2 separate regions of the Homo sapiens genome follow, and region 1 is linked to region 2. The links come from fine-mapping of genetic effects on gene expression. Tissue or cell type: blood mononuclear cells. Region 2 holds a variant in brackets; the other region holds the start of a gene. All regions are shown on one strand. Distances are from middle to middle.

What was found. PIP is the estimated chance that this variant, and not a neighbour inherited with it, causes the effect.
Region 1: it holds the start of LINC00092, and the variant in region 2 is fine-mapped to the expression of LINC00092 in blood mononuclear cells (TOPMed, PIP 0.90).

The regions. Positions count from the first base shown.
Region 1 is chr9:96,017,004-96,026,784 of GRCh38, forward strand. It overlaps LINC00092 (long intergenic non-protein coding RNA 92), which reads right to left and starts at 4,808. Exons shown (of 2, transcript NR_024129.2): 1 at 4,582-4,808; 2 at 2,729-4,278. ERCC6L2 (ERCC excision repair 6 like 2) reads left to right here. Exons shown (of 19, transcript NM_020207.7): 19 at 1-1,444. It overlaps LOC105376159 (a long non-coding RNA gene), which reads right to left. Exons shown (of 2, transcript NR_188619.1): 2 at 6,257-8,991. RefSeq lists a silencer at 3,988-4,037 and enhancers at 4,248-4,297, 5,730-6,230, 9,202-9,261, 9,260-9,781.
Region 2 is chr9:96,111,830-96,122,116 of GRCh38, forward strand. LOC158434 (a long non-coding RNA gene) reads right to left here and starts at 4,582. Exons shown (of 3, transcript NR_132344.1): 1 at 4,417-4,582; 2 at 2,806-2,925. The variant C/T (reference allele first, on the strand shown) is at 6,046.

The DNA of each region.
Region 1 (9,781 bases), 95 kb before region 2:
ACTGAACCTGTCAGCCCCAATGACAGGCACACACCTTCAAAGAGCAAGAGTGCCCATCACTTTCTAGGCTCCTTGCCTGCTGCTCATTCCATCATCACGGATACAGACTTGTTTCTGGTTTCATCTTCCACCAGAGATTGCAAAGCATCCTCTGCCCAGTGCTTCTAGGAGGCCTTACTGGGATGGTTCATAAGCCACTTTCCTCTTGGTGACAGCCCCTGTACACTGTGGCATGTACGGCTGGCTCCACTTGGTATTTGTTGCAGGAGGGAAGAACATCTCACTTTTGCTTGGCTAAAGGGCCACCCCAGGAGAGCTATTTTGCCTCAGGGTCTTGCAGGGTTTCTCTAGGAAAACAGTGCATCTGATAGTTACTCTCTGCCCCTAGGAGGAAAGACAGATTCGCCCTTCCTTCCCAAGTCCCAGGCTGTGTGGTTCCCAGCCCCAAGGGTAGCAAGTCAGAACCTCCGGAGAGGCTTTTAAGCATGCACATGTCCAGGGTCCTCATCAAGAGACTGAATCAGGGGGTCTAGGGCTCAGCACAGGCACCCTTTTTGTTTTTGCAGTTTCACAGGAATTCTGATGTGCCAGTGATTGTCAGGTTTGTCCCTGGGCAGGACCCACCTGCCTGACCTTCTGTCCCCCTGGGACACAGTATTTCCAGAGAGGTGCTTCAGTTGCCCCACCACGACTTCCAGCGCCCCCCATCTCTGTATGCAGCTGAGCTCATGATGGAGCCCACTGTGTGCTTTTTGTTGTTGTTACATTCCTATAAAAATGTCCACGCATATTTGAACATCTGTGTTCATAGTGGCATTATTCACAATGGCTACAACACGAAGAAAGCATTCCAAGTACCTATCGATGAATAAGCAAAATATTACACACACAGGAATATTATTCAGCCTTGAAAGGAAATTCGGACACGTGCTACAACATAGATGAATCTTGAGGACGGTATGCAAAGTGAAATAAATCAGACACAGAAGGACAAATACTGTATGATTCCACTTATATAAAGTACCTAGATTAGTCAGATTCATAGAGACAAAGTAGAATGGTGGTTGCTAGACGCTGGAGGGAGGGGAGAAAGGGGAGTTATTAATGGGTGTAGAGTTTCTGTTACACAGGATGCAAAGTGGCCTGAAGATGGATGGTCGTGATGGTTGCACAGCAATGTGAATTTAATGACACTGAAGTGTACACTTAAAAGTCATTAAAATGCTAAATTTTGTATGTGTTTTACAATTTTAAAAATGGAAAAAAAGTAAGACCAAAAGCAACACCTCTCCAGAATGTGTGTTATATACCAAATTTTGATGTATGTGAGATTGCTGACTATATTTTACTTATCAATTTGAAATTATATTGTTTTTATGTTGACACTCCATATAAGCCATTATTTTGAAAAAAACATTTTCCTTATTAAAAGATTGGAAAAAAATTCACACATAGCATTGTTTTTCTTTTTTTGTAAGACAGAGTCTCACTCTGTCACCTAGGTTGGAGTGCAATGGCGCAATCATAGCTCACTGCAGCCTCGACCTCCCAGGATCAAGGGATCTTCCCACCTCAGCCTCCCAAGTAGCTGGGACCACAGATGTGCACCACCCTGCCCGGCTAATTTTTGCATTTTTTTTTTTTTTTTTAGAGACAGGGTTTCGCCATGTTGCCCAGGTCTGGTCTCGAACTTCTGGACTCAAGCAATCTGCCTGCCTTTGCCTGCATTGTTTTTCTATTATATTTCATGTATTTTATTTGCTTTGCTGCAGGTTAAACTATGATGTTTATATTTATTGCCTAAGTTTCCATTAAGACCAATCTTAATTATACCAACATGATACCTTTCTGCCATGGACAGAGATAATACTCATCTGACATTCTTGGTTTTTTGCTGCTCTGTCTTGTAGATAAGAATCAAGAATGCTTCTTTCTACAGATATCTTTTTCGTTAGCTAAATAGGCCTCGCAGTCTCGTTGAAAGAAATAACTAAAACTCACTTTATGTTGTTTCAGTTTATCTGGCAGGGGGAAAAATGCGTGTGCAGCTCTGAATTTCTAATACGTCTCTAAGGAAACTCCAATGAGTTGTCTTGTCAGACTAAAATGTCTGGCAACTAAAATTATTGGCCTCCCTACATTTTTTAACTTTGAATTTTCTTAATTTTTTTGTAAAGTGGGATATGTTTCTGAACTGAAAGAAACTTCAAAAGAAGCCTCATAATAGCTAATTCATATTTTCTCTTCTTTCCTAAAACTATTATAAAAGCACTAATGGGAACAAAACAATTATTTTTCAAAATATAAATGCCAGGATGCACCATATGAGAAGCCCCCAGCCCCCTCTGCTTGCCTCCCAGCACCCGCATTGTGCTCCAGTGTTCAGCTTTCTCTTCCTCTCCGTCCACCACTCCCTGCCCTCTCTTCCCACTGCCAGTACCTAAGTGGCCTTCCTTCACCTGTGCCTGGCAAAGCCCTAGGTTCCTTCCATGTCACCCCTGACTCCTGAATCGACAGCTCCCTCTCTCAGCTTCCTGCTCACCAAGCTCAATGGAGCCTCAATGACCTGCCCACTGTTGCCTGAGGCAGCACTCTCACTGTCCCAAGACCCCATCACACCTTCACCTTGCTGGGACCTCCTAACTCCCTCAGCTTCCCCTACTCCACATTGGGGGTGTATCAGTCCATTCTCACGCTGCTATGAAGAAATACCCGAGAAATACCTGGGTTAATTTATAAAGCAGTTTAATTGGCTCACAGTTCCTTATAGCTGGGGAGGCCTCAGGAAGCTTACAATCATGGAGGCAGTTCACGTGAAGGGGGAAGAAAGGCACCTTTCTCACAGGGTGGTGAGAGAGAGGAAGGGGGACGGGGAAAGCCCTTTATAAAAGCATCAGATCGGCTGGGCACAGTGGCTCACGCGTGTAATCCCAGCACTTTGGGAGGCCGAGGCAGGCAGATCACAAGGTCAGGAGTTCCAGACCAGCCTAACCAACATGGTGAAACCCTTTCTCTACTAAAAATACACATTAGCCGGGCGTGATGGCGCGCACCTGTAATCCCAGCTACTCGGGAGGCTGAGGCAGGAGAATCTCTTGAACCCGGGAGGCAGAGGTTGCAGTGAACCAAGATCGCGCCACTGCACTCCAGCCTGAGTGACAGAGTGATACTCCGTTAAAAAAAAAAATCTTGTGAACTCACTGTCACGAGAGCAGCGTTCAGGAAACCACCTCCATGATTCAATTACCTCCACCTGGTCCCGCCCATGACACGTGGGGATTATTAAAATTCAAGGTGAGATTTGGGTGGGGAAACAGAGCCAAACCATATCAGGGGGCCAGGCCTTCAGCAGGTGGATAAGATGGGAGGAGTTCTGAAATACACACCCGGGATGCTCCAGAGGCCAAATCATAGGGCAGGTCATCCCAAGGACAGCAGTTAATTCACTGACATGCCAGCAAAGGGCAAACCGAATCGGCCCCGCGGAGCCCAGGTAGGGGCGCCGCTCACCTCCTAAAATGCCCTCAAAGACCCCTTAGGGCACAGCCATATGCTGAGACATGTTGGGGTGGACAAGCAGGTCTCAAGAAGCTTAGAATGTCCCCTAGGTGGACGCTAAGGGACAAGGCCCACCGAGGAAGGCAGCTGCAGATGATGGAATGCCCTCCCAATGGCGGGAACAAGCAAGGCTTCCGCAGCTCAAAAGGAGAAACATGCTTTGCGCTGGAGTCCTCAGAAAAGGCCACTTCCAAACTGTGGGGATGGGGAGTGGACGGGCCTAAGAGAATGGGAAGGCAGAACACCCCTTCTCCAGTCTCCCTTGGCCGTTAAAACCCCAGAGCAGCAGCAACGTGGGCTGTTTGGTGCGGAGGTTCCTGGTTTGGGTTGGCCAGGCGTAGAGTGCTTCCGACAATTCACCCACCCTCCAAGACGCGCGGGCCGGGGAGCGGGGAGAGGGCGGAGGGAACGGCGCACCGGGCCCCGTCGGACTGTTGGACCAAAAGTCCTCAGTGTCGGGGGCTCGCAGCGCCGCCGCGGCGAACCCAGCTAGGGGGCACCGCCTGCGCCGGGCACAGGGAGGCCGTTCGGCTTTCCCCCTCGCGCCCATTACTCTCAGGCGTCCCGGGGAACCCCGCGGGCCAAGTGTCGGGCTGCGTCCGGGCAGAGGCGGCTTCGCCTGGTGTCAGCGCGTTTCCGAAGGGCACCCGCGGCGGGGCCCACAACTCGAGCTGGGAGCCGCCCCAAGCAACCCGTTCCTCCGAATCAGGCTGCTTTTCTCTGTAAAGAAAAGAGAAAGCAAGCGATTAACTGATGGCTTGGCCGGCTGGAAACGGGAAAGCGAGTTCTCCAGGAGCCGCACACCTCGGGGAAGCCCAGTCCCTCCCGGGCAGGGAGCGAGGGGCGGTCCTGGGGGCTGCTTCCCGCGGGGAGAGAAGGGAGGGCGGCGCAGCCCTCTGCGGGGTCCGCCCCTCGGTTCTCCGGACCCCCGCGGCCTGGGGGACACGGGGCAAATTCTCGGATAGCGACGGGCAGGAAGGGGACCCGGGCTGGCGATGGGCCGAGTGCCTCCTTTGCTCTCACCCCCGCGCGAAGACGAGGCCAGTGGGCGGGTGGCGTGGGGCGAGGCCTCCGCAGGCCGCCGGGGGCCCAGGCACCTGGAGCCGGGAGGGTCCGCTCCCTTCCCCGCCCTGGATGGCGGCCTATGGGAAAGCAGTCTCCACTGGATCCCGCGCGCGTCGCGCCGAGGTCGTGGGAAACCGAGGGCGGGAGGGCGGGAGGGCGGAGGCGCCGGCAGGGTCGGCGGGACTGGGGCTCGGACGGAGGACAGGGGCGAGGAGGAGGCAGGAAGGACGCCGGGTACTGCGGGGCGCCTAGGGGGTTCCGAGCGCAGCGGCTGCGGGGCCGACCCGCCCAGGATGGAATCAGGGCCCCGGCGCCCCCACGCCGCTCCTCCAGGCCGAACCCCTGCGGCCCCAATCCCCCGGCCTCACGCCCACCCCGCAGGTCGGCCCTGCAGCTGCCTTCCCTTCCTCCACCTCCCTCCCGCCTCCGAAGCCGGCGCCCCCGGCCAAGTGGCCGCTCTCAACCTGTTACCAAGTCCTAGAGAGAATTTCTCCAAAATATTTCCTGGATCCCCCTGCCAAGGGCCCTGTCCCGCCCTTCCAGCTCCCAACTGGATGCCTGCAGACCTCTCCCCGGGTTCCGAGGCTCTGGCCTCCTCCCTCCCTAATCCATTTTCCACACCGCTTCCCCGGGAGCCCGTTAAAATACACCGGGACCGCGGCGGGTGCAAGCCTCCTGTATCTCCACATAGCAGGCTAAGGGGAATTGGGTAGGGAATAAAGGCTGCAGGGGACATCGGCTGGCAGGTATGAAGCCCGTATTGTGTGTCGTTTGTTAAACACTTCCAGTGGATTTTCTCGTTTAATCTGCCCAACAACGCTTCTGGGCCGGTATTCGTATTGTTTTATAGAGGGAGAAACTGAGGCACAGAGGGGCACTCGGCTTGTAAGCAACGGAGTAATTCAGAGCCCGTCAGCCCCACGCCGAGTTTATTCACCCTGGCAGGGGCTTCCGCGGGAGCCATGACCCTTCCTAACTGGGGTGGAAGGACCCGCAGCGCCAGCCGGGTCCGGGCCAGACGGCAGCGAGTGTCTGTTAATAGGGATGCTGAATGGGTCAGGCAGTGGGGCACAGGTTCAGTGTGATCTGGAATGCCTGCGAGGCCCCCTTGCTCATCCACCTGCCTTTAATGGATGGGTGGTCTGAGTTTCTGGAGATGGGCAAGATGGAGCAGTCTCCACACTTGGCTCTTCAGCCCCGGCGCCCCCCACAGCCGCCTCTGCTTTCCTGGAGATACCGCAGGCTCCTAACCTCAGGCCGGCTTGTGCTGCTCCACCCTCTCCCTCCCCCACAGACACAGGCCACTTAGCGCGCTCTCCCGTCCCTCACCCCTGCCAACAGCAGCCACTTCTGGCCACTTCCTTTACATGTGAATGAGTCCAGGTCTGGGCTGCCTTTGTCCGGGGAGGCCGGTGGGATTTCCATCAATAATTGTTGGTTGGTGAGTCAGGGGTCAGCAGTGGTCTCCTTTCCAGGACCCAGAAATGACACCACAAGGGTAACTGGCCACTATTTCCTGCCTAGGAACTAGCAGCATCCCACCCCCACCACTCCATGGCCTAGATAAGACAGGCCAAGACCCCAGAGACAACAGGACTCTGGAACAGGGAAGGGATTTATGATTAGCATAGGCTCTAGTTAAATTCCTTTTTTTATTTCTGTGCATTGACCTATTATGTAATATGCTTTTTTCTTCCTGGAATACAGATCCTACCAGTGGTTTTATTCCTTTTTTATATAATGTTTAATTCATCTGTCTCTGTAAATCCATCACATGAAATTGAAAGGGTCTCAAAGAGCAGACTGTTTCCCCCCTAACTCTTCCACTATTCAACCCAGGGGCAAGCACTGTCATCCCTCACTGCTACCAGCTTCTGGTCAGTCTTTCTGGCCACACGTATGTAGACATGCTTCATTCTTTTAACTGTGTTTTTGATGTTTTCTATATTAACACCAAAAAAAAGTACACTAAGAAATCAGTGCTATTTCCGAATGGAGCCCGGAGTTTCTCAGCACTGCGCTCCTCCAGTGCCAGAAGCACCCTACTTCTCTTCCTCAGTTGCTTCATCAATCACATGGGGCTGGGGCAGTGAGGAGGATGTATTTGCCTCACATAGAGACTTAAAGGTTTTCCTGATCTCCTCTGGGTACAGAACAAGAAATTAAGGATGATCTGAAATATACAGGGCTTGGATAAGACTTGAAACAATTGTGATGATAGGAATTGCTGGGTTCTGGAACCGAGGATTGCAGTAACCAGGGGCTCAGAAAGCTGAGATATCCCTCCAGTGAAAGGGGACCCGGGAGCATAACTGAACAAAAGTCATTTCTCTTCCTCATGATGGGTATTTCTCTTTTTCTGGTGAGAAGTGTCAGTATCAGCATTTATCTGCTGGAGACTGTTTAAATGTTAGGTGTACTTAGCAACGTTGCATCTATTTTTCTTAAACACGAATCACTTTCCAGAAGGGAACCGAAATGACCACCTCTAAAAGTTGCTACTAACTATTGCTCCAGAAACCAAAGTGATGCCACTCACATGGCTGGCCATAGTCTAATTTCTTCACAAACAGAGGCAGAGCAGCTTGCACCACGTAACCCCAAAGCTTTTCTGTAACTGATCAGAAGTTCCTTTCTCCACCCTTTAGCAGAGGTGCTGGTGACCAGGGAAGAGGAGAAGGTAAAGAGCAGAGTGAATGAAGGGAAGTAGGGGACATAGATTCTTTAAAGTCTGGGTAATCAATCCCAATGTATTCAAGAGAGACCTCAACTTGCTTTCCTAGATGGGACGTGGTGGCCCACGGCATCCATAGCAAACCACTCTCTTCTTGGATAGTTGGCTCCCAGACTTGAAGGCTGTGCTCCTTGCTGTCCTCGGACCTCTCCAGCGGTCTCTTTCTAGTTTCCTTGGTGGGCTCCGCCTCCTCCTCCTCACCTTGTCCCTTGGATTTCCCAGGGAGCTATCCCCAATCTAGGGTTAGTCTCATGCACCCACCATATTCTAGGGGCCCCTCCACTCACTCTCATGCTTTTAATGAATTCATTTATGGGTGATCAGGAATCTTCACCATAGCCCAATCACCCTTCTGAGTTTCAGGTGCACACCCTGTTGCTTTGGTGTGACTGCTTCCCGTTGGGTTATCCTTGGGCACCTCACACTCATTGTGTCCAAAGCAGAATTCTTCATCCTCAACTCTGCACTCATCCTATATTTGAGACTCCTAACTCAGTTAATCGCATTGCTTCAGTCATTGACCTCATAACCCAAATCTCAGCACCATCTTTTTTTATTTGGTTGGATGCTTCCATTCCTCTCAGCCACTGTATTCACTCAGTAACCAAGACTTCCAGAGTTGACCTCATAAATATTTCCTTAACTCTGATGCCTTCTTTCCAGTTTCCTACCAGTGTCCTAGTTCCTGAACCACTGGAATAGCTTCAAGTCTTTCACTTCTTAGGTCTTCTAGAGAAATTTGTCATATCTAGTAGAACTCTTTTGTTGAAAATGACGCAGACTGGTTTAAGCAAAAAAGCAAAATCATGGATGTCAGGCTGGTTTCAGGTGTGGCGTGGTGTCGAAGCTCAAGGGACACCACCCACACCCTGTGTCACCAGCTCACCACTCAGGTCTGCTCTCTGTCACTCTGGTGGGCTTCATTCTCAGGCTGCATCATGGGAGTGCAGTAGCAGCAGAAGGTCCAGCTCGCCTGGTGCTTCCAGTGTCAAGTTCTATAGGAAGGAGGCAGGCCTGAGGCCAGATGGCAGCGAGTTTCTGTTAACAGTGACACTGAGTGGGTCAGGCGGTGGGGCTCAGGTTCAGTGTGATCCGGAATGCCTCCGAGGCCCCCTTGCTCATCCACCTGCCTTTAGTAGATGGGTGGTCTGAGTTTCTGGAGATGACTAGGAGTAGCAGGAAGGGACACTGAGCTACACAACACATCCAAAGCCCACCACACATCAGACCCAAGGATTCCCCTGCATAAAATTCCCCAAGGCAAATTTTGCCCATTGAAGTTTTGTCAAGATGATTTGATTCTTCTGTTGAAATGCAGTATTAATCATTGTTGAACTTTTTCATTTTGTTTGCATTGATATTTCCACCAGTAATCTTCAATAAGAATAGAATTTTAGAACTGATCATTTGGGTCTACTCTTCAACTTGCAAGGAACTGTGCGCGGTGTTAAGACCATGCCTCTGAGATCACTGGAGAGACAGATGGAGAAGTGGAGGATTTGTATTTAGAGTCTAGTCAGGGAAACACACCTCCCCCCTCAGATAGAGAGAATCTCCTGTTGTTGGTCGATATTGGAGGATTGAGTGGCAAGCCAAGATTCAGATATGGTGACTGATAGAAGCAGTGAAGGTCTCTAAAGAGCAAAGAGAAGTCATGAGGGTTCTGAGAACCGAGGTCCTGGAAGCTGGAGAAGGGGCCCTGGGGAGTGGAACCGGACCTCTGCACTTGCCTGGCCCTGGGGCCTCCCAGAGAGCTGGACTCAAATCTCCGAGATGGACCAGCCGGCCCGGGCGGGATGTGGGCAGGCAGGTCCTGGGAGTGCATGAAGCAAGCTAGAAAACTGGGCATGACCGCGCCACCGTTGGGAGTCCGGGGGGTTATTGGGGCTCTGCTGACGGGAACAGGCTCCTGTCCTGCGATCTGCGGCCACCACGCCGCCCTCTGGGGCCCCCTGTTGGCAGAACCTGGCGGGAGCTCGCTGGCCCGCAGAAGGCTCAGGGCCTGGTAGCCAGGGCGCGGATCCCAGGAGGTGGATTCGGAACTCAGTGAGCCCCGGAGCGCCGCAGTGGGGCGGGGGTGGGGGAAGCGCGGGGAAGCGCGGAGTCTCTGGGTCAGCTGGTCCCCACTGCCAACGCCCACAGGCCAGGCGGCTTCCGCAGCATCTGCTCCACACCCCATGCGGAGCAGGGGCTTGTTGTTTCTGCACACGCCCACCGCATACACACCGCACCACACACACAAACACACTACACACACCACACTATACACACCACACACACAAACACACCACACACAAACACACCACACACAGCACACCACACACACCACACTACACACAAACGCCACACACACCCCACACACCAAACACACCACACCACACACACAGCCCACACACACTACAAACACACCACACACAAACACCA
Region 2 (10,287 bases):
GTGGAGAAGGTGTCCACCTCTTCTCCCAGACATGTCTTGAGCAGACAGACAAGGCCCCCTGTTTCACAAAGTGGATTTCATGGCAGTGACATAAATAAAGAGCCTGAGGATGGGATTGTGCTACTTGCCAAACTTCAGTCCTGTCTCTTTGCTGCGCGTGATAATCTGCCCTTCCTGCTAGACCTGCTTAGGTCAGACTTGGAAGTGAGAAATGAATGGAGAACGCCCGTTTCCCAGCCACCTCGCGCTCCTGCCTTTTTTGCCCACCTTCTGTCCTGGATTCCTTTCCCTTCTCTAGATTCAAGAATCAAGAGTTGATTCAGGTCCCAGTGAAAATAACGCAGGGAGAAGCAGGCAGTCACTGTGAACTGGCTGAAATAATTGACCAGGAATTTGCATTTGGGCACAGGCTCTCTTTGGGATCTCCATCTTGTACGGTTCTCTACCCTACCCACACCCTGCACCACTGGACTGGCCTAGAAGTTCTTTTCTTAGTCGTGCTACATGTCATCAAAACTGAACAAAGGAGTAAGACACTGGGGAAAATACCTCTTTGTTGCCTCCCGGCACCCCCTTCCTCATCTGACCAAAATGTTACCTTTACCTGCCAATGTTGGTCAGCCAGACACCTGAATGGGAATTTAAGTATGAAATTCAGAGCCTTCTGATTAAACCAGTAAAGTCTAAACAAGTCACAGACTCAAAAGACAGCTAAGCTCTCCACCGTGCCAGCCGAGTAGGCAACATGGGAGGTGGCCACTCAAATGAATGTGCCTCACCTATGCCAGACTAGACAATGCCTTGAACACCAGCATCCCAGGGGAATAATAGGCCCTTGGTACATACATAGTCAGCCTTAAAAATGAACTTTCCCTGCCGGACAATGGTGGCTCACACCTGTAATCCCAGCACTTTGGGATTTGCGAAAGCAGGAGGATCACTTGAGGCCAGGAGTTGACAAGCCTGGGCAATATAGAGAGACCTTGTCTCTATAAAAAAAAAATTAAAAATTATAAAATTATAAATTATTTTTAAAAATGATTACGTTTTCCACTGCCAGTTAAATGAAATGCTTAGCCTTACCTGTTTCCTTTCCCTTCTTAAAATGCAAGTGCCTTTAGGAAAATGACTACTTATCTAAATCTTTCTCACTTTAGTGTGAAATAATTTGTTAGATAACTTTCCAATATGATTGCCAGCCAAGAACAGGCCCCAAGAGGACAAGGCAGAGGACAAGGAGATTGACTGCAAGCAGGGAAACAAGCATAGATGACAGTGAGGTCATCCTACAGAACCTGCTGCCTGGGACGCCACCAATGGCACTCTCAGTGGACACTCACACCATCATTGGTCCTTGCTGCCCTCCGCTGGGAGCCTGTCTCCACTGTCACCTCCATGAGTTCTCTATGTCACTTCTTCAGGAGCCCACCATCTGAATGGGAGGACCTGGCAGAACTGGCTCCACTTCCTGTCCCCACTTCCAGAAGACAGGTGGTTAGAAGATTCATCTGCACACAGTGGGAAACAGGGCCAGACCCCCGCAGATCTTGGCATTTCCTCCAAAGAGACAGGCTGCCCAGTGTGGCTGCAAAACACAGCAAATGTCCCCTAGAGTAGGTAAAATTGGAGAACGTATTAGAGTCCTTGGGCCTCAGGCATATTAAATCTTTTTACATGGCTGGGCGAGGTGACTCATGCTTATAATCCCAGCACTTCAGGAGGCCAAGGCAGGAGGATCTCTTAAGCCCAGAAGTTTGAGATCAGCCTGGGCAACATACAAAAGATGAAAAAATTAGCTGGGCATGGTGGCACACACCTGTAATCCCAGCTCCTTCAGAGGCTGAGATCAGTTGAGCCTGGGAAGTCGAGGCTGCAGTGAGCTGTGATCGCACACTGCACTCACTCCAGCCTGGGTGACAGAGGGAGGCCCTGTCTAAAATAAATAAATAAATCTATCTTTTTACTTGTTAGTTCATTTAATTTGCACAGCTCTGGGGAGAGTTCATTACCTCCAGCTTTATGGATCTCCAAGACTAAAGAGATGGAGTAACTTGCTCAAGGTCCCACAGTTAGAAGGCCATGAACAGAGATTCCAGGGTGTAGCTGGTGGCTCCAAAGCCCATGCCCTTCCCAGCCAGCTTCCCCTGGCATCTGAGGGGTGGCCTGGGCATCAGGTGTCTGTCTATAGAGGAGGGTCTTGGAGACGGTGTCTTAGTGGGTGATGGTTGCCATAACAAACTACCACAGCCTGGGTGGCTGCCGCAGAACTTATTTTCTCACATGCCTGGAGCTTTGCCGAGATCAAGGTGTTGGCAGGATTGATTTTTTTCTGATGCCTGTCTCCTTGACTGGCAGAGGGCCGTCTTCTCCCTGTGTCTTTGCATGGTCTTTCCTCTGCACATGTCTGCGTCCTAGTTCCCTTTTCTTACAAGGACATCCATCATATTGGATCAGGACCCACCCTAATGACCTCATTAACATAATTGCCTCTTTAAAGGCCTTATCTCCAAATACAGTCTTATTCTGAAGTACTAAAGGGTTAGGATTTGTTTTTGTCTTTGTTTTTGTTTTTGTTTTGAGACAGAGTCTCACTCTGTCACCCAGCCTGGAATGCGGTGGCACAATCACAGCTCATTGTAGCCTCCAACTCCTGGGCTCGAGCAATCCTCCTGCCTCAGCCTCCTGAGTAGCTGGGACTACAGGCATCCACCACCATGCCTGGCTAATTTCTTTTATTGTGGACATGGGGTCTCACTGTGTTGCCCAGGCTGGTCTTGAACCCCTGGCCTCAAGCAATCCTCTCACCTCTCAAAGTGCAGGGATGACAGATGTGAGCCATCACACCAGGACTTTAACGCAGGAATCAGGAGCAGCTGGAGGACAATTCATCCCGAAACGGAAGGGACACCAGTCAGGGAATTATTTCTGACAGGAGATGATAGGGAGAGCAGTGATGAGGCCCAAACAGATAAGCCCTGCGCCCCCACTTCCCAGGTCTGATGAATGATGCCCCACCTGCCTTCACCTTCATCCAGACTACTGCTGGTTTAGTCTTTATTTTCAGCCTCGTTAACCCCAAGGCAAGGGTGTCATTTTTCGATTCTCAATGTAACTTCTCTGCTCCGGGTTAAATTATCCTTCAATCAATGGTGTTTTTGCCCATTTTGCATAGCAAGATTCCGTGTAGTTCTGGCCTCTAAACTGCCAGACCTATGCTGGGACACCCATGCATGAAGGCCTGCTATCAACTGAATTGCATCCTCCCTAAACTCATATGTTGACACCCTAACCCCCAAAGTGATGGTGTTTGGGAGATAATCAGGTTTAGATTTGAAGCTCGTGGTGGAAGAGAAGCTAGAGAGCTTTCCTTTGCCTTCTGTTCTCCTACGAGGACACAGCCAGAAGGCAGCCGTTTACCAGTCAGAAAGAGAGCCCTCACCAGAAACTGACCATGCTGGCACCCTCATCTTTCACTTCCAGCCTCCAGAACTCTGAGAAAATTAATTTCTGTTGTTTAAGCCACCAGTCCAGGATATTTTGTTATGAAGCGACTATGACAGGGAGGGGAGCTGTTCCACCCCTGCTGCCTCAGCCTGCATGGCTGTCCCTGTCCCCACCTCCTCATCTTTCTATCTTCTTGCCTCTTCCCTTCCCCATCTCTCCTGTGAATTAGCTCCTTAGGGCTGCCATAACAAAAGTACCACAAATGTGGCAGCTTAAAACAAGAGAACTAACATGGTGAAACCACGTCTCTACTAAAAATACAAAAAAAAAAAAAAAAAAAAAAAAAGCCGAGTGTGTTGGCGGGCACCTGTAGTCCCAGCTCCATGGAAGGCTGAGGCAGGAGAATGGTGAACCCGGGAGGCGGAGCTTGCGGTGAGCCGAGATCGCACCACTGCACTCCAGCCTGGGCGACAGAGCGAGACTCCATCTAAAACAAAAAACAAAAAACCACCACCACCAACAACAAAAAACAAACAAGAGAAACTTCCTCTCTCACAGTTTTGGAGACCAAAAGTCCAAAATCAATGTGTTGGCAGGGCCACGATCTCTCTGAAGGTTCTGGGGGGGATCCCTCCCTTGCCTCTTCCAACTTGTGGTGCTTCCTGGCATTTCTTAGCTGTGACAGCATCACTCCCATCTCTGAGTCCAAGTTCACACGGCTTTCTTCCCTCTGTGTCTCTCTGTGTCTCAAATCTTCTCCTTTCTCTTGCAAAAATATCTACTAGTCAATGGACTTAGGTCCCACCCTAAATCCAGGATGATCTCATCTTGAGACCTTTAACTAGATCATATCTGCAAAAATCTCATTTCCAAATAAGGTCACATTTGCAAGGACCGGGGTAAGGACTTGGAGCTATCTTTTCGGGGACACTTTTCTACCCTCCACACCCACTTACCCTTTCCCCACCACACCTCATCTTCCTTCCTCCACATCCTGGAGCTCACTCTGCTGTCCTGTCCTTCGCCTGCAGGCTTTGACCCAGGGCTGGATGGGAGCTGGAGCAGGAGGCCCAGGCATTGCATCTGGTCTCCACAACAAGACGCTCAGTACCTACGAGTCCAACTTTCAGTCTCCAAGTGTGAGCATACAGAGCAATCTCACAAAGAACCTTCTCACTGGGAAGGAAATGGCTTACACATTAACATGAGTGCACTTAGACAAAGAATAGCTGGCAATGTTGCAATGCTGGAGACAAGTCCCAGCAGCCAGTTGTGCCTTGTTAGAGACTCATTGATTTTGGGTGGCCTGGATTCCATTGTCACCAATGATATGATCATATGGGCCATGTTCCAAATGCCTCTGGCTGTGTTCAGAGGATGAGAAGGGGGAGAGTTAAACAAACCCCCATGCAGAATCTGAAGGCTTTATTCATCCACCCTGGCACTGCTTTGCCCACTGAATAAAACATTCTGTACCCAGGGGCAAGCCCAGGCCCCAGCTGGTACCGTTCCCAATGTCCCACAGGCTTCCAGGCTGCCCTTCAGCACAGACTCCTCCAGAACACTGTGCTCAGGGGCCGCCAAGGTTCCAGCTCCAAGATGCAAACTCTGCCCCAATTGCCAAGGGAGTGGCTGTCTTTGCAGGGCATTGTCTGTGAGTCCTTGATCCCTGTCTTCACTAATGGCAATCCCAGGAAACTGCCTGTGAATAAAAGCCTTCTCAGCCCTGGGGAAGAAACAGGCACAGCTGGCTCAAATTGTCCAGCTGAAGACAGAGCTCAGCCTGGAAGGGACACAGCTCAGTTACCACCGTGCCAGGCAGCTCTTCCTTTTATATAAACATTTGAGGGCAGGGTTCTCAAGCCCCGCTGCCCCCTAGTCCTACCTTTTCTCCATTGTGACCACAGAGGGTTTTGTTGTTGTTGTTGTCATTGTTTCTTGGGGGGTTTTTTTGTTTGTTTTTTGTTGTGTCTTGTTTTCTTTTTGAGGCAAAGGGATAACTCTTTCAGAGGGGCACCTGGAACTGTCTGGTGTGGAAGCTTTTCCTCATTCGGCACAATTTCAAACTTGCGAGCTTTCACAAAGGCGTGGGTGACTGTTTTACTCCTTGATAAAAGTCTGGCATATTCAGAGTTACTGAGACCCAGGAGCGGTATCTAATACTTTGGAAACTAGCAAGGGTTGCTTTATTTCCCATTCTTGATTCTACATTGAAAGTGGGGGATCTTGTTATGCAGATCCTAACACTCTGCCCCTCCCCAAATCCAAATGAAAGGCAAGGTCATTTCACTGGAAATGTGGTAAGCAGTTAGCAGACAATGGGATTGTCCCCAGTGCGGGGTGAGGGTGGATAAGAAACACACAGGTGGGACGGTTAACAACATCAGGAGCTGTGGCTTTATGGAAATTTATGTAAGCATGATGAATTGCACACAGCCATTTGTCTCTATTCCCTCCTAACCCTCCATGAAAGTGACAGGAAAGGGACAAAAAGACATTGGCGCACAAAAGCGAAGAGAACATGAAAGGAGTCACAGCAGAGAGAGGTCAACTGAATGACTGCAAGAGGAAGTCAGATCTAGCAGTGAGTAAGTGAACAGA[C/T]CACAGGATGCAGAAAGCTAGCACTTCAAGGGCTGGGGCAGGAGCTGCTGGGCAGATTCACAACGCAGAACCCAGGGAGTCTTGGGAAGTGGAAGCATAGGGCATTGCTCATGGGGAATATCCCAGTGGGCTAAAAATGAGAGGATTAATTGAAAATCTATAAAAGAAGAAGTCAGAGATTCCCTTGCTTACCTCACTCAGGACTGGGACCACCCCTCCCTCATCCAGAAGAAGACAAGTGGATGGGGGGAGTTGTTGTCACTTTCTAGAGAAGACAAAGGAAAGGGAGTCCAGGCTCAGGACCCAGGTCTAGGTGAAAACAGTGGAGTGTAATAAAAATCAAGCCCTGTGGCATCCCCTTTCCTCACTTGGCTGTGAACTAGGCCAGGCTCAGGAAATTAGAGAATTCTTCTCTGGGGAAACTCATCAATCCCAGAGATAGGATTTGCAGATAATAATGTTTAAGAGTTCCTCAACAAAATAGCCAGTTTCCTTCTGGGAAGTCCTACTGAAAGAGAAACCTTTGCATGCAGAGTTTCCAATAACCTAATTTATTTGTTTGTTTGTTTATTTTTAAATTTTGAGACAGGGTCTTGTGGTTTCACCCAGGCTGGAGTGCAGTGGGGTTATCATGGCTCACTGCCACTTTGACTTCCCAGGCTCAAGCCATCCTCCCACCTCAGCCTCCCAAGTAGCTGGATCTACAGGCATGTGCCATCATGCCCAGCTAATTTTTAAATTTTTTTTGTAGAGACAGGGTCTTGCTTTGTTACCTAGGCTTTTCTCGAACTCCTGGGCTCCAGCAATCCTCCCACCTTTGCCTCCCAAAGTGCTGGGATTATAGGCATGAGCCACCACACCTGGCTTCCAATCATCTTTTTAGTCTAGCCATTTGCCCTTTAAATATGAATGGACTCAGGAGTAGCAGATATTTGAGGAAAGTCTTTACGAAAGAAAGAAAAAAACATAATAAAGGAATGAGAGGTAATATAGAGAACAAGATACCTTTATAAAATTTGTAATTTATTTTTTAGTGAAAAAGGGAGATGTTGCATCCATAAAACAAGATCAAGGTGCCATATTAAGAGGAACACATAAAAATGATAACATGAAATTTTAAAACTTTCTCATAAAAGTTGGAAGATAAAGAGGATCTCTGATGCTAGAATCATAGAGCTTTTGCTTAAGAATTGCTTACAATGTTTTTCAGATTCTGAATTCTAGCAGAACAGCTGACATCAACCAGTGTGAAAACCCTTATAGAAGAACTATATCAGCATGAGAATGTTTCTTCATCTCCCCTTCCCATGACTTTACCCTGAATTCATCAATCAATCAATGATCCCCACACCTCAGTCCACTCCAAACCCCTTAACATCCCTAGCCCCAAACTCCTCAGGGAGGTGGATGTGCGGTTTCCTCCCATCTCATTAGGCTGCCCTATAATTATTTAATTTGTTCTCTGCTGCTCCCTGGTGTCTCAGCATATTGACTTGCTGTGCATTGGGCAGATGAATCTATTACAAGAGTCCCACCAACTACTGTAGTATTATGACAACAGATCACCTTGGGATTTCAAAATACTGGGAAAAGTGAGAAAACTCTAAATCTTCTGGAGAGACAACCAGAGCCACATAAAGGAGCAGTGTATTAGCCCATTCTCTTTTTTCTTTTTTTTTTTTGAGACGGAGTCTCGCTCTGTCACCCAGGCTGGAGTGCAGTGGCACAATCTCGGCTCACTGCAAGCTCCACCTCCCAGTTTCACACCATTCTCCTGCCTCAGCCTCCCTAGCAGCTGGCACTACAGGTGCCCACCACTCCCCCTGGCTAATTTTTTGTATTTTTATTAGAGATGGGGTTTCACTGTGTTAGCCAGGATGGTCTCGATCTCCTGACCTCGTGATCCACCCGCCTCAGCCTCCCTAGTCCATTCTTACACTGTTAATAAAGACATACCCAAGACTGGGTAATTTATTAAAGAAAAGAGGTTTAATGGACTCACAGTTCCACATGGCTGGGGAGGCCTTATAATCATGGTGGAAGGCAAAGGAGGAGCAAAGGCACATCTTACATGGCGGCAGGCAAGAGAGCATGTGTGGGGCAACTTCCCTTTATATAACTGTCGGATCTCATGAGACTTATTCACTATCACAAAAACAGCACAGGAAATCCTGCCATCATGATTCAATCACCTCCCACAACACGTGGGGATTATGGGAGCTATAATTCAAGATGACATTTGGGTGGGGACACAGCCAAACCATATCAAGCAGGAATCAGAATGGTACTGGGGTTTTCAAGAGCAAGACTAGAAGCCAGAAGAGTGATGCCTTCCAAGTGATTTCCAACCTAGCATTTTTAGCCCCCAACCCACAATGTAAAAACATTTTACTTTCAGTAAAAGTGTGAAAGTAAGATAAACACATTTTCAGACATGCCAGTCTCAAAATATTAATTAAAACACCACTACTTTTTATTGATTTTATTTTCAGGAAGCTGGTGGAGGTTGTGTGTCATCAAGCAAGAAAACATACCAGGAATGAGGAAGATGTAGGACACAGGAACAGGATATCCATCAAAAACGAGAACTCCAGGGTTGATGGAGAAGAACCCTAGGTTGATGACAGCCCTATAGCTGGCCTAAGGAAACACCAGTCCATACTGGAAGAGAAAAGTTCTGGAAAAGATATGGAAAAGAAATCTATGGTAAAGGGAGAACTGAGTAGAATACCTGATAGATTTAAACAGAAATCTCTAGGAAGATAATCACCAAGAAAAACAGGAGTCACATAGATTACCTGATGTATTGGAACGTTTTGAGAAATGTATACTCAGGCTAAGAAGTTGAGGATGAGTAAATGACAGGTACATTACACAATAGGAAATGAAAATTAAGGCAACTAGAAACTCCCAGGGAAACAAAATAGTGATCATGAAAGAAAAAAAAAACAAAGTACACTATTGCACTTGGTTGTTTATATAATCATGATATTGTAAAAACCGAACTTTGATTTAACCAAAAATTAAACTGTAGAGATAACTATATTGGGAGAGTGTGGAGAGGAAGTCTAAATAAAAGGAGTCAAAATTTATATTTAATGGTGAGAAGTTAATTGAGATCTAAAACTGAAAAAATTAGGAAATAGCAACGTAAACTTGTTGCTTCACAGTATGGACATAAACATCAGAAGAAGGAACTAAAAGAGTTAAAATGTTTGCCATAGGAGTGGGAATGAGGGTGAGTGGGGCGGGTGACAAGACTACTTTGGTTTTGTGTTGTTGTAAAATCCATTCACTTTTAAAATTGTATTAAACTATGTTCATATGTTGATAAAAATTAAAGTTAAAATGTTTGTTGGAGGTCTCTGACTTTGACGTTTAGGAAACAATGCTATCAGCATTTTTTAAAGTACTTGCTAAATACTTGCTCACATATGGCAAGTTTTAGGCACCAGAACAATGATTTATACTGCATCCCTCCTGAGAAAATGTGGTTTGACCACAATGAGATGTCACCTCACATGTGTTAGGAGGGTTTTATCAAGATGAAAAATAATAAGTGTTGGCCAGGATGTGGAGAAAAGGGAACCCTTGCACACTGTTGGTGGAAATGTAAATTAGTGCAACCATTATGGAAAACAGTCGGTGGCTCCTCAAAAAATTAAAAATAGAATGACCATGTGATCCAGCAATCTCACTTGTGGATATGGGAAATGATATCAGTATGTCTAAGTATGCCCAAGAGATACCTCTACTCCTGTGTTCACTGAAGCGCTATTCACAATGGCCAAGATAAGGAATCAATCTAAGTGTCCATCAATGGAATGAATGGATAAAGAAAATGTGGTATTCAGCCTTAAAAAAATAAGGGAACCCCGTCATTTTCCAACTATATGGGTAAACCTGGAGGACATTATGTTAACTGAAATAAGCCAGGCACAAAAGACAATACCTCAAGATCTCACTCATATGTGGAATCTTAAAAAGTCAAACTCAGAGGAGCACCAGGGACTGGATGGGGGAGGGATGCTGGGAAGATGTTTGTTAAAGGATACAAAATTTTGGTGAGATAGGTGGAATGAGTTCAAGAGATCTATTGCACAACATGGCGACCCCATTTAATAACAATGTACTGCATTCTTGAAAATTGCTGAGAGTACATTTTAATTGTTCTCACTGCGAAAAGAGAGCTAAGTATGTGAGGTAATGCATGTTAATTACTCTGATTTAGTTATTCCACAA